Regions from separate parts of the Homo sapiens genome. Here region 1 is linked to region 2. The links come from fine-mapping of genetic effects on gene expression. A gene starts in region 2. The other region holds a variant in brackets. All regions are shown on one strand. Distances are between the middles of the regions.

What was found.
Region 1: its variant is fine-mapped to the expression of MRAS in whole blood (TOPMed, PIP 0.98).

What each region holds. Positions count from the first base shown.
Region 1 is chr3:138,375,824-138,384,157 of GRCh38, reverse strand. All of the region lies in intron 2 of MRAS (muscle RAS oncogene homolog), which reads right to left. Among named protein-coding and RNA genes, the nearest start is that of MRAS, 31 kb to the right of the region's middle. The variant A/G (reference allele first, on the strand shown) is at 3,699.
Region 2 is chr3:138,344,372-138,352,705 of GRCh38, reverse strand. MRAS (muscle RAS oncogene homolog) reads right to left here and starts at 4,127. Exons shown (of 6, transcript NM_001085049.3): 1 at 3,939-4,127. RefSeq lists an enhancer at 3,660-4,615.

The DNA.
Region 1 (8,334 bases), 31 kb before region 2:
AACCCTGTGAGATCAATCCCTTCCAGCTACCTGCCTGACCTCTCTCCTACTAGCTGTGCTCTCACTTGTTCCACACGCTGGCTTCCTAGCTATTCCCCACACAGGCCAGGCACACCCCTGCCTCGGGGCCCTTGCACCTGATACTCCCACTGACTGAGATTCTCTTCCAGATACAGGTGCAGCTTTCTCTTTTAGGTATCTGCTCCAACATTCCCTTATCAGGAAAGCCCTCCTTGACCAGCCAACACAAGACCGTAACCACTTCCCCACTGTGACTCCCTTACCTTGTCTGACCTTCATCACAGCACTTATCACCACCTGACACCATACATATTTGTTTATGCTCTGTCCCCTCACCCCACTAAAATATAAGCTTCATGAGAGCAGGGGCTTTGATTTGCCAATTGCTATGTCCTCAGAGCCCAAAAGAGAGATGGGTACATTAGCAATTATTTGCAGAAGGAATTAGTGAACATATCCAGGTACATAGGACTCAGGGTTCAATTCACACAACTCTGGGCGGAGAGGTATATCCCTAAGTCAGGGGCTCAAGCCTCACTCCTGAACCTCCCTAGACACAGGGACATGTGTCAGTGGCCCCTCATCCATACAGGTGATGGGACCTATTCTTGAAACCATCAAGCCACCTCATAAATAATATAAACCAGACACAGTGGCTCACATCTGTAATCCTAGTGCTTTAGGAGGCCAAGGTGGGCGGATCACTTAAACCCAGGAGTTCAAGGCTGCAGTAAGCTATGATCATGCCACTGCACTCTAGCCTGGGTGGCACGGTGAGACCCTGTGTCTAAAAATAACAATAAAAACAACAATAATATATATCACATTAAAGCAATCACTGCAACAATAGCATCTACTGAGGTCTGCTATGTGCCAAGCCCTTGCAAGGTGACTTGTTTCCCCCCTCACTCAATAAACAATAATTAAACACCTAATAGATGCCAAGTCTGGGCTGACATCAGAGATACAATGGTGGGCACAGTCCTTTTCCTCAAGGAACTCACAATTTGTATTTTTTTCATTTATCCTTTGCAACAACTATGAGGTGTATCTCATTTGGATACAGATCCCACTGATGAGGGTGCAAGGTCTTTGTCCAGAGGCAGCCCAAAGGGAGGAGGAGCCCCAGTCACCGGAGCCAGGGTGTGGGGAGCACAGGCTGATAGAGGCAACACTGAGGCCCAGGGAAGGTGGCATCACCCAACACAATGGCAGACAGGGGAGGTCTCAGATCTATTGGTCAGGCTGGTGTGCTTGGCCCAAACTGGTCACATGACTTCTAACAGGGACCAACATGAAGTTCTGAAACTCAGGCAAAACCCCACATTAACTGGCATATATGACCTGATTGTCAGCAAGGAAAGTGGAAAAACACTTGGATTTTGGGATGCTGACAAATCTGGAACGAGCCCAGGCTGTGCTAAGAGTTGGGTGTAGGGAGTTGCATATTCCACTCACACCTTCATCACTGAGTCCAAGCCTCACTGAGCTGACTCTAGGTCAGTGGCTGGAGAGGGGTCCTTCAGCTCCCAGCCTGGCTAGTGGGTCTGGGAAGGGCCCCTCGGGTGCAGGGCAGCAGCAGCAGCAATTTTCCAGTGGTAGAGAGTACTTCACTATTTTACCAACTAGTACAGCAGTACTGAGGTACACTGGCTGCAGAGCAGCTGCGCTCACCTGGAAAGTGATTTACTCTCACTTGACTAATCTCAATTTCACAGAATTGTCACAAGGATGAAATAAGGCATCCTTGTAAAAGCCCTTAGCATGAGGCCTTCAAGAAAAGTCTGGTTGGTAGTAACTGCTACCACCGCTCTGAGGACAGACAGCAAGAGAGGATTTGGGAAGAGATGTGTCAGCAATGTGAGGAAGGGCTTTCTACCAGAGAGCACTGCCCTGGGCACCATGGAGATCAGTGAGGCATTTCAGCAGCATGGCTGATGCAGCAGGGACAAAGGGTCAGGCCCAGGCCTGCAGGGCTGGATTGCATAATCTCAGGCCAGCAGCCATGCTTCCCTATGAAGGGAAAGAGGGAAATTCCTCCCACATCACTGCTGGCAGGGGAAGGGCAGCTTCCCCTTGGTGGGTGACAGGCCAGCTCTGCCTGCACCCCATTCTTAGTTGGGGCCTATGGAGAGTGCCCACTCTGAAGCTGGCCTAAGGCCTGCTGAGCATAAAGCCCCCTGGTAAAGCCCCTGGTTCAGGAAAAAAAAACTCAGTAAACGTTCCTTTTCCTCTCCCTGCCCTTCAAATGTCCTCCTCTCCTCCTCGTCCCCAGAAAGAATGTGGATTCAAGTGTGTGGGGGAAAAGCCAGGTTCAGGCCCCTCTGAGAAGACAACAGCACTTGTGTCTGAGGTTTGGGCAGAAGCCAGGGTGGAAATGTCCCAGCTTCTGATGGTGCAGGAGAAGAGCCAGGCTTTTGCTCTTTGAAAACACTGGGCACTTGCTGGGGAGTCGGAGACAGAGAGGTTGCGGAGCTGGGCCCAAGAACCCCAAGGTAGGAAGCAGTGTCTGGAGACTCAGGGCCCACTGCTGTTCTCCACCGATGGAAGAAAGATGCAAAGTTCCAGAGGCTGGCTGGGCAGAGGGCGGGGCTGGGAGCCAGAGGGTGGGGAGGCCCAGAGACATCTGCCCTGTTGTAAGTGAGGAGAGGATTTGGTCAGCATCCCACCTTAAAGGCCCAAGGCCTGGGCCAAAGCAGGAGGTAGTGGGACAGGGTGGAGGACACGCTCGGCAGAGTCAAGAAGCCCAAAACCTGGCTCTCCAGCTAGCTAGGTCTCACCCTAGACTAGTGACCTCTCCATCTGTACCTCAGTTTCCACAATTGTAAAGTGAGGGGCTTAGCAGCCTTCCATCCCTAACCAACAGAAAAAATAGGCACACAAGAACTCTAAGACGAAAGAAGGAAAGCAGGGACTCAGATATTTATATACCATGCTCATAGCAGCGTTATTCATAACAGCAAAAAGGTGGAAACCACCCAAGTGTCCATCCACAGATGAACAGATAATGAAAACATGGTACATCCATACAGTGGAATATCATTCAGCTTTAAAACGGAGAGAAGGCCGGGCGTGGCGGCTCATGCCTGTAAACCCAACACTTTGGGAGGCCGAGGCGGGTGGATCACGAGGTCAAGAGATTGAGACCATGCTGGCCAGCATGGTGAAAATGCTACCAGTCTCTACTAAAAATACAAAAATTAGCTGGGTGTGGTGGCACGTGCCTATAGTCCCAGCTACTCGGAAGACTGAGGCAGGAGAATCACTTGAACCCGGGAGGCGGAGGCTGCAGTGAGCCGAGATCACACCACTGCACTCCAGCCTGGCGACAGAGCGAGACACCGTCTCAAAAAAAAAAGAAAAAAAAAGGAAAGAAATTCAGAACATGCAGCAACATGGATGAACCTTGAATAGATTGTACTAATTAAAATAAGCCAGCCACATAAAAGGACAAATATTATTCCACTTATCATAGCACTCAAATGAGGTATCTAGATTAGTTAAATACATAGAGACAGAAAGTAGAAGCCGGGCGCGGTGGCTCACGCCTATAATCCCAGCACTTTAGGAGGCCGAGGTGGGTGGATCACCTGAGGCCAGGAGTTCGAGATCAGCCTGGCCAACACGGAAACCCCATCCCTACTAAAAATACAAAAATTAGCCAGGCGTGGTGGTGC[A/G]CGCCTGTAATCCCAGCTCCTCAGGAGGGTGAGGCAGGATAATCACTTGAACTCAGAAAGCGGAGGTTGCAGTGAACCGAGATCGCACCACTGCATTCCGGCCTGGGTGACAGAGTGAGACCTCATTTCAGAAAAAAAAAAGAAAGTAGAATGGTGGTTGCCAAGGACTGAGGAGAGGGGAAAATGGGGACTTAGTGTTTAAGGGGCAAGGGATTAATAACCTGAATATATAAGAAACTCAAACAACTCATTAGCAAAATAAAATAAAATTCTGATTTAAAGGGCAAAAGACCTGAATAGGCATTTCTCAGAGACAAACAAATGGATAGCAGGTATATGAAAAAATTATCAACATCGCTAATCATCAGAGAAATGCAAATCAAAACTACAATGAAATGCAAATCAAAACTACAATGAGATAACATCTCACCCCAGTTACAATGGCTATTATCAAAAAGACAAAAAATAACAAATGCTAGGGAAGATGTGGAGAAAAGAGAATGTTTGGATACTGCTGGTGGGAATATAAACTAGTATAGCCACTATGGAAAATGGTATGGAGATCCCTCAAAAAACTAAAAATAGAGCTACCATATGGTCCAGCAATCCTACTGCTGAGTATACACTCAAAGGAAAGGAAATCAGTATATTGAAGTGATACCTGCACTCCCATGTTTATCATAGCGCTAGTCACAATAGCCAAGAGTAAGGAAGCAACCTAAGTGCCTTTCAATGAATGAATGATAAAGAAAATGTAGCATATATACACAATAGAATATTATTCATCCATAACAAAGAATGAGGCTGGGCGCAGTGGCTCATGCCTGTAATGCCAGCACTTTGGGAGGCCGAGGTGGGCAGATCACCTGAGGTCAGGAGTTCGAGACCAACCTAGCCAAGATGGTGAAACCCCATCTCTACTAAAAATACAAAAATTAGCCGAGCGTGTTGGCAGGTGCCTGTAATTTCAGCTACTTGGGAGGCTTAGGCAGGAGAATTGCTTGAACCCGGGAGGGGGAGGTTGCAGTGATCGTGCCACTGAACTCTAGTCTGCCCAACAAGTGTGAGACTCCGTCTCAAAAAAAAAAAAAAAAAAAAAAAAGACATTCTGTCATTTGCAGCAACATGGATGGAACTGGAGGTCATTATGTTAAGTGAAACAAGCCAGGCACAGAAAGACAAATATTGCATGCTCTCACTGATATGTGGGAGCTAAAACAGTGGATTTCATGGAGGTAGAGAGTGGAATGATTGACATCAAAGGCTGGGAAGGGTGTGTGGGTGGGGGGATGAAGAGAAGTTGGTTAATGGGTACAGAAATACAAAGAGAAGGAATAAGTTCTAGTATTTGATAGCACAGTAGGGAAATTATAGTTAACAATAATTCATTGCAAATTTCAAAATAGCTAGAAGAGAAGAATTGTAATGTTCCCAATACAAAGAAAGAATGTTTGAGGTGATGGATATGCTAATTACCTGGATTTGATCATTACCATGCCCTCAAAATATGTATGAATATGATATCAATAAAAGAAAAGGGAGCAAGCAGAATAGTGGTTGCCAGGGACTGAGGAGAGGGGAGAATGGGGAGTCAGTGTTTAATAGGTACAGAGTTTCAGTTGAGGAAGGTGAAAAGGTTCTGGAGATGAATGGCAGGGATGGTTGTAGAACAAAGTGAATGCACTATGCACTTAGAGATGGTTAAGATGGTAACTTTTATGTTATGTACACTTTATCACAATAAAACAAACAAACACAAAACTCTATGGCTCTGCCGAAGGTTTGGGGCTTCCTGATTCATGACAAGAGAGAATTGGGGTGAGGGCAGTCACACAGCTGAAAGCCAAGGTGAGGTGGTGTTCCAAAGTCAGAGACAGGAGGAGAGGGCTGAGAGCATGGAGATGGGACAGCCGAAGCAAACCCCACAGTGGAGAAGCAGGGACCAGACGGGGAGGAAGAGAGGCTCCGAGGGTTGGGCCCTTGACAATATAAAGTGAGATGAGGATCCCGAACCCTTGCAGGAAAGAACTCAGAGCAGGCTTGCTCCAAAGCCTGGGGGTCCCACAGCCACAGGAGAGCCTGGCTGCTGGCCCCTGAGGCCAGCCAGCTCTTGTCTCTTAGGTTCTGGGAGGACACAGGCAATGTGACTTCCTGGAAGAAAACAAGAAACAGGTTTGCAAGAAAGCAGGCAGCCTGTGAGAATAATCAGTGTGGAAGTCACAGAGAAGGCTTCCTTAAGCAGCTTGCAAATCTCTGACGTGAGACTGAGATCACAACCGGAGCACCTGGTTCTCTGAAGGACCCTGGGTGAGGAGTAAGAAGGGCAGAAGAGGTATGATAGTTCAGCCACACCCACTTCTTCCTGGGACTTCAGCTCCCCTTCCCAGAGGCACAAGGATCCACTGTGCTGTGGGGGAGGATTTTCCTACACAACCAGACTGACAGTGGGTAGGAGTCAACAGGTAGCTCAAACTGTTGCTGGTTGTGTGAAACTTTTGCTGTATTTTCTTCAACTATAAAACAGAAATAACAACAGCAACTACCACGATAGCATTTGTAAGGATTCAAAGACAGCAAATGCAATGTGCTTAGCACGGGCCTTCCACACAGTTTCTGCCCATTCAATACCCCGTCATCAAAATTATCATTCTCTTCCTTCTCCTCATCATCGTGCTGCCACGTTTTTATTCTTTCTGAGTTTGGAAGAAGAGAAACTGCAGAGTTGAGATCCCCTGGAGTTCAGTGGGGTACAGGGCAACTGAGGGCACCTCCAGGCTTAGCACCTCCCCGAAGATGGCATGGCCTCAGGGGAGCAGGACCCCTGGGATCCAGATGCCCAGGGAAGTCCTGGCCATCTGAGGGGTGCAGACCACTCCAGAAAAGTTCAGCCCCAGAAAGGTTCAGAGTTACTCACTGCAACCTCCGCCTCCTGGGTTCAGGCAATTCTCCTGCCTCAGGCTCCCGAGTAGCTGAGATGACAGGCGCCACCAGGCCTGGCTAATTTTTTTTGTATTTTTAGTAGAAGCGGGGTTTCACTATGTTGGTCAGGCTGGTCTCAAACTCCTGACCTCGTGATCCACCCACCTCGGCCTCACAAAGTGGTGGGATTACAGGCGTGAGCCACCGCACCCGGCCAAGTCTTCCTTTTCTTAATAGCAGATCTAATGGAGTGGAGAAGCATCTAATCTGGGAATCTGGTGTCTATTCCCGAGGAAGGCCTGGGTGGGCAATGCCCTAAATCGGGCCTGACTCTGGTGGCAGAATTAGAAGCTTAACAAACTCATTCTTCTAAAGTAATGCCATGGAGAGCCCAGGCATTCAGAACACAGGCTTTGCAAATGCACACTTCTAATATAATGCTGCGGCCATGTTTCCCCTCTCCCTGCTGCTCCTGCTATAAATGTTGAGGAAAACATTCAATCTTGAGGAAAACATTTTTCCTCAGAAACCAATTTAACATCCAAAGGTACTCAGGAAAAAGTCAGAGAAGTTTATATGGCTGTAGAGAGAAATACTGATTGAGTTCCAACGATGTACCAGGCATGGTGTTACTTTCTTACATGCATTATGCAATGTGTTTCAGAATGTTCTCTATGGAACATAGTTCAGAATCACGTGCAAAAAATGACCCCTGTGGGAAGCTCTAAGGACAATGTATCCTATCACTACACCTCTAATATGTGTTTGCATGTTAAAAGTTCTTGTAAGTCCTGCAGTGAAGAAACTTGTTTACATTTATTTAACTCAGTATATCCCAAAGTGTGCCATATATTCCAATAGGTGATGCATGAAATGATTTTAGAAAGTGCACAGATGTAAGTTTTAATTTTAATAGTTATATATACTTATTATTGTAATGTGAGTTAGAAAAAAATAATATAGCTAGCACATCAAACCTTTCACTACACATATATTGTTCAAGGTTTATTCTTTCATTTGGTCATTCCACAAATGTTTACTGGGGAGCTACTATGAGCCAAGCAGTATTCTAGATGCTAGGAATAATGCAGTCAGTAAATAAAGTCCCTGCTCTCAGACATTTATATTTTAGTCAGCAGAGACAAAAACACAAACAAAGATAAAATATGTCCAACCATAAAAGGCAGAATAAAGAAGAACAGAGTTGGGCATAGAAATGACTGGGGTGGGGTGGATACTAGTGTCAATGGTTTGGTCAGGGAAGACCTCTTAGATAAAGTGACATTTGAGCTGAGACCTAAATGAAATCAGTGTTTCTGCAGGAACAATGTTCTAGGCAGAGAGAAGACAAAATGCAAAGTCCCAAGATGGGAAGGTGCTTGGTACCTGTTCAAATTGTTCAAAGTCCCAGGGCTGCAGACAAACCCTTGGAGGACGGTGCTTTTTAAAATTGAGATACAATCTACATGCCATAATATTAATACTTTAAAAGTATATAATTCAGTGCTTTTAAAACATATTTACAAAGTTTTTTTGTTTTGTTTTGTTTTTTTGAGAGGGAGTCTCACTCTGTTGCCCAGGCTGGAGTGAGGTGGCGCAGTCTCGGCTCACTGCAATCTTTGCCTCCTGAGCTCAAGTGATTCTCCCACCTCAGCCACCCGAGGCTAATTTTTATATTTTTAGTTGAGATGGGGTTTCACCACGTTGCCCAGGCAAG
Region 2 (8,334 bases):
ATATTGTTTTATCCGTCAAGGTAGCCTGATGCGAGGACTATACCCCTCTGAGACTCAGAAGGTCACTTCAGCAACCGGTGATGACCCACATTGTCATGCAGCAGTCCCCACCTAGTGAAGCTACCAAGAATATTAAAGACAATGATAGGGACATTAAGAAGCAAAATACAAAAAATACATTTTTATATATAACATATAACCAAAAAAATCAAATAATAAGGATTGGACTAGAATATAAAAATATTTTTTAATATAACAACAACAAAAAGAAGCAAAATACACATTGCTGCTTCATGACTCCTACAAGAGGAATGCCTGCAGAAAGCTGTCTTAGATCATGCTGGCCAGCTAAATGGCCCTAGGGGCTCAGTGCTGGGGGCCAGGGCAAGGAGGGCCAGGGTGGAGTCTCTGGGAATAGGTGGAACCAACTGCATCACACAGGTAGCGGGAATGCTTCCTAGAGAACAAGAGATGGGGCACCATTGAATGCATGGCGAGTGCAGCGTGGTCTCCACCTCAGCCTGAACCTCATCACCTCTGCGGAAGCATGAGGCAGTGCCAGCACTGCCCTCTTTGTCAGACCCACTGGCTGACTGCACAGACTTCAACTCACAGGCTGGGCAATGACAACTGTCCCACTCTATTTGTACTCTTGGCCCCCATCTCTGCCCTCTCACACTGCACTGGAATGGCATGCTGACTTGGCTGCACAATGGGCTTACAGAATAGGTCTGCCATGAACATTAGAGAAGTCACGTGCCTTTAGATCAGAGATGGCTAAACTGGGATCCAGGGCTGGTTTTCAGAGATCCATGAATCCCCTGAATTATATGTCCAACTTTGTACATCAACGTTCCCTGGGCTTCTCATCAACATATTAAAGAGGCTGTGACTCAAGAAGACAAAACCTATTACTCTGAACTCCAGACACTCAGCCTTTATGGCTACCTGTCCCATGCAGGAACTTGCTGGAAGTGGCACTGATATCCCATTCCTGTGTACAGAGACCTTCCAAGAGCAGAGAGCATCTTTGGGAGATCTGAGCTCTGCTTAATCTTACTTACTGTTATTTGGGTTTTGTTACTTGCAGCCAAAGCATCCCCATTGATTCAGTACTACAGGGCTCAGAGGCATGATCTAAGACTTAGGAGGGCTGACAGGGACTCAGAGTCCAGCAAGAAAATTCCTCTTAAAGCTTGAATTCTCTGCTGAGTCCCTAGACAATGGGTACCTGCCAGGTGTCCCAGGTCTCAGGGAACTCCTCCAGCTCCTTTTTTACCTGTCTCCAGATAAAGGTGACTGTACCTTCTATGCCTGCCCAGGGCCTGGCAGGTACAGAGCCTCTGGAACTCAATGCACATCCTCTGGACACTTAAGAACATTCCAGCATTGCACAAGAATGCATTCCCATTCAGTTCACATGAGTATGCTTGTACAAACTACACAATGCTCATGAGCAGGTATGTTTTTCAATTGCTTTCAGGGAGACACACTCTGTTTGGGGGCATTTCATTGGCAGAACAGATTACAATGGTTAAATCTGATGTGAAATATATTATGGAAGCCACATTTCCCTGAGAACTCACTAGATCCAGGAGGCTGGTCAACATGTGATTCTGACTGAGGTTAGGACCAGTCATCCCAGGAGCCTAATTTATCAGAGGCCAATAGTCATTCCTGGTTCCAGGTGATCACTAGAGCTTAGGAACCAAACCAACCCCAAGGGTAACTGACTTGTCACTTTTTTTTTTTTTTTTTTTTTTGAGACAGGGTCTTGCTCTGTCACCCAAGCTGGAGTGCAGTGGCGTGATCATGGCTCACTCCAACCTCTGCCTTCTGGGCTTAAGCAATCCTCCCACCTCAGCCTCCCAAGTAGCTAAGACTACAGGTGCATGCCACCAGGCCCAGCTAATTTTTGTAGAGACGGAGTTTCACCATGTTGCCCTGGCTGGACTTGTCACTTTATAAGTAGCTCAGACGAACTGAGTATGAAATACCAGTGGCTAGAGCTAATAATAACATAAAAGTTAAACCTGTCATAAAGTGTCTTATGTAGGTGAAAACAGAGGTGGAAATTAGCAACTGTCTTATGGAGGAGCGAAGCTGACAACGCTGGAGACAATCGCTTGCTTCACCAAAGGGCCTTGACTACCGCCTACCCCAGTCCCGCCCCCAGCTTTAGGAAATGCCGAGGTCACATCTAGGGGGTCAGTTTCCACCAGAGCACGAGGCTTGCCCAACACCTCCCTCCCCAGAGGCTGGCAGACCTCAAAAACCCCAGAGCATGAAAGCCCCATGCCTCCCACCCCGGCAGAAAAAGGACAAACTACACCATAAACTACAGAGAGAAGCTAACTGGCTGCTGGGCAGTGTGAACAGACCTAAGGGTGAAAACCATTGCCCGAAACATTTTCAGCCCCACTCAGCAGGGACATGTGATTTACAGGAAATTAGGAGGTTTACAAAATGTTAGCAGCTCAAGTTTCTTCCCCGGGAAAAGAAGCAGGAGAAGCTCTAAGAACCGTATCCGAGAAAGTGCTTTGTTCACTGCTAAGCTTCTGACACGAGTCAGTTATTAATACCCACAGCTCACTGCCTCACACTTCAACCCACCAGTGAATGTCTATAGTGAATAATTATAAAACAATATATTACAAAACTCTAACACAGGCTGCACCAGAGCCTTCCGAAGCCCAGGACAGCCACGTGGCCAAAAGCATGGACTTCAGATATGATCTTGGGCAAGCTGTTGGCTCTTTTTCACCCCAGTTCCTCCATCCTTTACAATAAACAAAATCCTTCTGGAGGTGTCTTGTCAAGAGGTGTCTTGTCAAATGATGAGCAAATCCACTTCAAGTGCCTGGTCTTTGGAAGCCCTGTTGGTTGCTGTTATTACAGTGGAGTTTCAGAGCTCTTAAAGTCATATCTCCATCTTACTTCTGCTGCCAGACAAACCTCTGGAGGCCACGATTCCGAGCCTTGTCAGCCACCCTCTCTGGTCAGGTCCAGGACAGAGTGAGTCCTAGAGGAGCAAGGCCAGGGAGGTTCCACACCATCAGGGGCCATTGGGGAGTAGGGGCAATGGCAGAGCTCTATGATCAAGGCCCCAGTGGCCTTGATGGACTCTGTCCACCTCTCCAGACTCCACTTTGCCCCAGGCCAGAACAGACCTCAGCTCTAGCCAGAGTCTAACTGGGTGTCCAGTGTATACGCTGCGGCCAGCCAGACATTAACTCCTCTAGGCGGCCTTCTCTCACCTCCCACTCTGCAGTAGGGACCCCTAGGGGCTCCCACAACCCCTGGGCTTACCGAATCTCAGCACTTACCACACTGGCTTGTCACTTTGTGCTCTTGTCTTCCCCGCAGGGCAGGACTGGCACCGTGTCTGATGCCTCAGCCAGATCAGTTCAATGCATGAGCCCAGGCCCTAGTTGTGACCACAGCTCCAGCTCCCCAAACCTCCGGGGGCAGTGAAGGGTTGTTTATGAAGCAGGCTGCGTTTTATTATTCAGATGAATTTGTCAACTCCCTGGCGGATCCCTCCCCTCGTTAACGCCATCTTAAGGCGGGGGGGTAAAGAGTCCCCCACCCACCCACCCATCCCCCGCCGCCCCGTCCTGCCGCCCATCTATCCACCGGGTTCTCGCCCAGGCAGCCAAGGAACTGTAATTACCATGAAAGGGTCTCTCTGAGCGGCGCGCAGGCCCTCCCCACTGGGGTCTTGGTCGTGGCCGATTTCACGAACGCACACCGTTACGCGGGAGCCCGCGATGGGGGCAAAACGCCACGCACAGCCGGTCCCAGGGCGCACCCCGCAAGCGGAGAGCGCGGCCGAGCCCGGAGGGCGGCCACACCTCCCGCCCCGGAACAAAGCGACGGCCGGGGCGAGAGGCGGCGCGGCCGGGCCCCCTCCCCTCCAAGGCCGCCCGACCACTCACCGCGCGCTCCAGCCCCGGCTCGGCTACGGCACTCAGGCCGCCCCCTCCTAGCCTGCGCCGGTGAGGAGGCAGCGTCGCGCCCGCCGGGCCCCGCGGCCGCCGGACTGACGGCTCCCCGCCAGCCGGCCACTCCGGTCCGTCCCCGCCCCGGCGCCTCCTTAAAGCGACCGCGCCGCCAGCGTGCGCCCCGAGCGCCTAGCGCGCCGCGCATTCCTTATATTGCCACAGCGCCTGCTAAAAATAGAGCGCCGCTGCGGGCGCGCCAGTGGGGAGCCCGGGCCGGGTGCCTCGACCCTGTCGCCCCCGCGTGCACCCCGGCCCCCAGGACGCGCGCCTACGAAGTCCAGCCCACCCGCGCCGAGTCCCCTGGGCCCGGCAGGGCGCGCTAGAGCGCCAGGGGCTGGGGTCGGCGCCGCAGCCTCTCCCGCGGCCCAGCACTTACCCGGGTCAGATCCGTGGTGCCGGGGAGCTGGCTTTAAGGTGGACGCCGAGTGGGAATTCGACTCGGCCTCTTTAAGAGCCTCTGCGCTCCAACCTTTAAATCTCCGCTCCGGCCGGGCCAACTTCTGAGCCTAGGGACGCCTCCCCAGTCCTAGGCGAACCTCCGCCGCCACCTTAGCTGCATTCCCTTCGAATCCTGAGACGTCTTTCTTCCAGATCATGCCCCAGCGTCTCTCCCCGCAGGCCTTCTGGGTGCACCGTTCCAGGGCCCAAACTTCGTTGGGATGGATGCGACGGGGACAGGCGACACTCGCGCACCATTTCATTGTTTCAGTTCCGCTAACTCCTCTCCAGCGGCGTCATTTTCCCCCCGTTAAAAAAATAAAGATATAATTCAACACCATAAAATTCCACCTTTTGAAGTGTACAATTCAAGCCGGGCGCGGTGGCTCACGCCTGTAATCCTAACACTTTGGGAGGCCGAGGCGGGTGAATCGCCTGAGGTCAGGAGTTCAAGACCAGCCTAGGCAACATGGTGAAACCCCGTCTCTACTAAAAATACAAAAGTCAACCCGGCATGGCGGCACGTGCCTGTGATCTCATCTACTCGGGAGGCTGAGGCAGGAGAATCACGTGAACCCGGGAGGCAGAGGTTGTAGTGAGCCGAGATTGCGCTACTGCACTCTAGCCTGGGCAACAGAGTGAGACGCTGTCTCAAAAAAAAAAAAGTGTACGATTCAGTGGTGTTTAGCATATTCACAAAGTTTTGCAACCATCACCATGAGCTAATTCCAGAACATTTTCACCACTTCCCACTCCCCTCCCCTGCCCCTCACAAAAAGAACTACCCGTTAGCAGTCACTCCTCATTCACCCCTTTCCTCCGCCTCTGGGAACCACTAATCTACTTTCAATCTCTATGGATTTCCCTATTCAGGACATTTTCTATAAACGGAATCATACAACATGTGGCCTTTTGTGACTATGACTAGCTTCTTTCAGTAACCAATGTTTAATGATCTATTCATGTTGTAACATGTAGCAGTACTTCATTCCTTTTCATGACTGAGTAATATTTCACTGTATGTCTATACGTTTTGTTTATCCCTGCATCACTTGATGGATATTTAGTTTTCTGCTTTGGGGCTACTGTGAATAAAGCTGCTATGAATATTCATGTACAAGTCTTTGTATGAACATATGCTTTTCTTTCTCTTGGGTATATACCTAAGAGTGGAATTCCTGGATCATATGTTAACTCCATGTTTAACTTTTGGGGGAACTGCCAAACTGTTTTCCAAAGCAGCTGCACCATTTTACATTCCCACCAACAACATATGAGGGTTCCAATATCTCCACATCTTTGCAAACACTTGTAATTGTGTGTCTTTTTTTATTCTAGTCATCCTATTGGGGGCGAAATGGCATTTCATTGTGGTTTTGATTGTCAGCATCATTTCTGAGGACATTCTTTTTCTGGGTGGACCTCAATGACTTAGAACCAGCTTTACATGTCCAGGGAACCCACTCCCTTCTCAGGTTTGCCCCAGGCCTAAGGGAGCCTCACAGTGCTGCTGGCTCTGCCTGCCATGCTGAGGCTCTTAATCCCATGCAGGCTTCCTTTGGCATCCCAGCCACCCATGCAGCCATTTGGTGGGAGCTGCTGTGCACCCCCTGTGCCTCCACTCCCACCTGCTGCTCCAAAGACCCTGTAGACCCCAAGTGTCCCCCAGGAAGGGGACAGCAGGTTGGGTGCCATCAAGAGTATCTCTCCTTGGCAGTAGGGAGTAAAAGACCTGGTTGGGGAGAAGGCTTGAGGGACAGTAGTTTACCTCGACTGTCTAGGTTTGCCCTGGAACCTGACTCCCTCAACCCCCTCTATTTACCACAGAACTTGGGAAGGCGGGCAGGGATCTGTACATCCTGGTGGCCTGTCAGCCCCTCGTGGGCTCCCCATGTAAGAGATGTCCTCTCTTGGGCCCTGACTGGCACAAGACCCTGACCATGCCCTCAGCTTGAGCTGAGCCAACATCTATGCAAGAGTCAAAGAGATGTCTTTATACTGCTTTTATACACATATCTGTAATAATACCTCTTCTCAGAAATGGAACTTAAACAGCTAATAGTCATACCCAGGTACCTGGGATTCTCCTTTTTTTTTTTTTTTTTTTTTTTTTTTTTTGAGACAGAGTCTCGCTCTGTCACCCAGGCTATAATGCAGTCGCATGATCATAGCATCATAGCTCACTGCAGCCTCGACCTCCCGGACTCAAGACATCTTCTTACCTCAGCATCCTGAGTAGCTGGGACTATAGGTGTGCACCACCATGCCTGGCTACTTCTTGTACTTTTTGTAGAGATGTTCCCGAGGCTGATCTCGAACTCCTGGGACTCAAGCAATCCACCTATCTGGGTCTCCCAAAGTGCTGGGATTACAAGTGTGAGACACTGTGCTTGACCTACCTAAGATTGCCTAATGGTGAGAGTAAATCTTGCAGATTGCGATTGCGGATGGGCTGTTCCATTTGAGCTGCCTCCTCTGCTCTTTGAACCTTGAAATACAAGTTGTGGCTCAGTTGCTGGCAAATGGGGGCTTAGAGAACAGAGCCACTGAGCAGAAAAGCTTCATTCATCCAGTAAACACTGCCAGAGCATCTACTGAGTACCGGGCACTGGGGCAGAGACCTGCCTTCAAGCAAGCTGAGTGCCAACTGAGGAGCAAGTGGTGTGGAACAGAGAAGCACAGGGACTGTGGAAGACCAGAGGAAGGGCACCTAATCCAATATGGCGAGGAGGCAAGTGCCAAGGGAAGGACTTCTGTGAGAGCTGATGACTGAGCCACATCTGGAAGGACAAATAACAATTAGCTAGGGCCGGGTGTGGTGGCTCATGCCTGTAATCCCAGCACTTTGAGAGGCCAAGGCAGGCAGATCACAAGGTCAGGAGTTCAAGACCAACCTGGCCAATATGGTGAAACCCCGTCTCTACTAAAAAAAAAACAAAAATTAGCCAGGTGTGGTGGCGGGTGCCTGTAGTCCCAGCTACTAGAGAGGCTGAGGCAGGAGAATTGCTTGAACCCGGGAGGCGAAAGTTGCAGTGAGCTGAGATCCTGCCACTGCACTCCAGCCTGGGGGACAGAGTGAAACTCCATCTCAAAAAACAAAAATTAGCTAGGCTGAGAAGGGAAGGAGAAAACCTTATATGCTGAAGGATGATTGAGCAGAAGTCTTTCCAAAGTCTCTGGCAGATGTGCCTGGCTGATCAGGTGTGTTTGAGGCATGGCAGAAGGCCAGACACCTAGCCAAAAACCCAGGCAAGGCTCAGGCCCAAATTTAATCCACAGAGGTCCAAGGTCAGACACAGGGCCAGGAGCCAATTTCTGGCTAAAGTCAGAGCCACTGAACTGACCCAGAGCAGGACAAAACAAACATACTTCATCCACTGCAACATGTCCTACACTTGCCTCTCTGCCCTGAGGCTTGCTGAGTGCCATGCCTCAGAGCCAATCCAAACTGGTGCCTAGTTCAGCAGCAAACGTGGGGGCTTGGGACCTTGGGGCTGGAAGTCAACCAGGTCATTGTGGCCCAGCCTTCCTCTAGAACTCCCAGCTTCAGGCCAGACGCGGTGGCTCACATCTGTAATCCCAGCACTTTGGGAGGCCGAGTCAGGTGGATCACCTCAGGTCAGGAGTTTGAGACCAGCCTGACCAACATGGTGAAACCCCACCTCTACTAAAAACACAAAATTAGCCAAACATGGTGGCGCATGCCTGTAATGCCATCTACTTGGGAGGCTGAGGCAGGAGAATCACTTGAACCCAGAAGGTGGAGGTTGCAGTGGGCCGAGATCGCACCATTGCACTCCAGCCTGGGCAACAAGGGTGAAACTCTGTCTCAAAAACAAACAAACAAACAAACAAACAAAAAACCTCCCAACTTCAGTGTATTCCCTAAGGG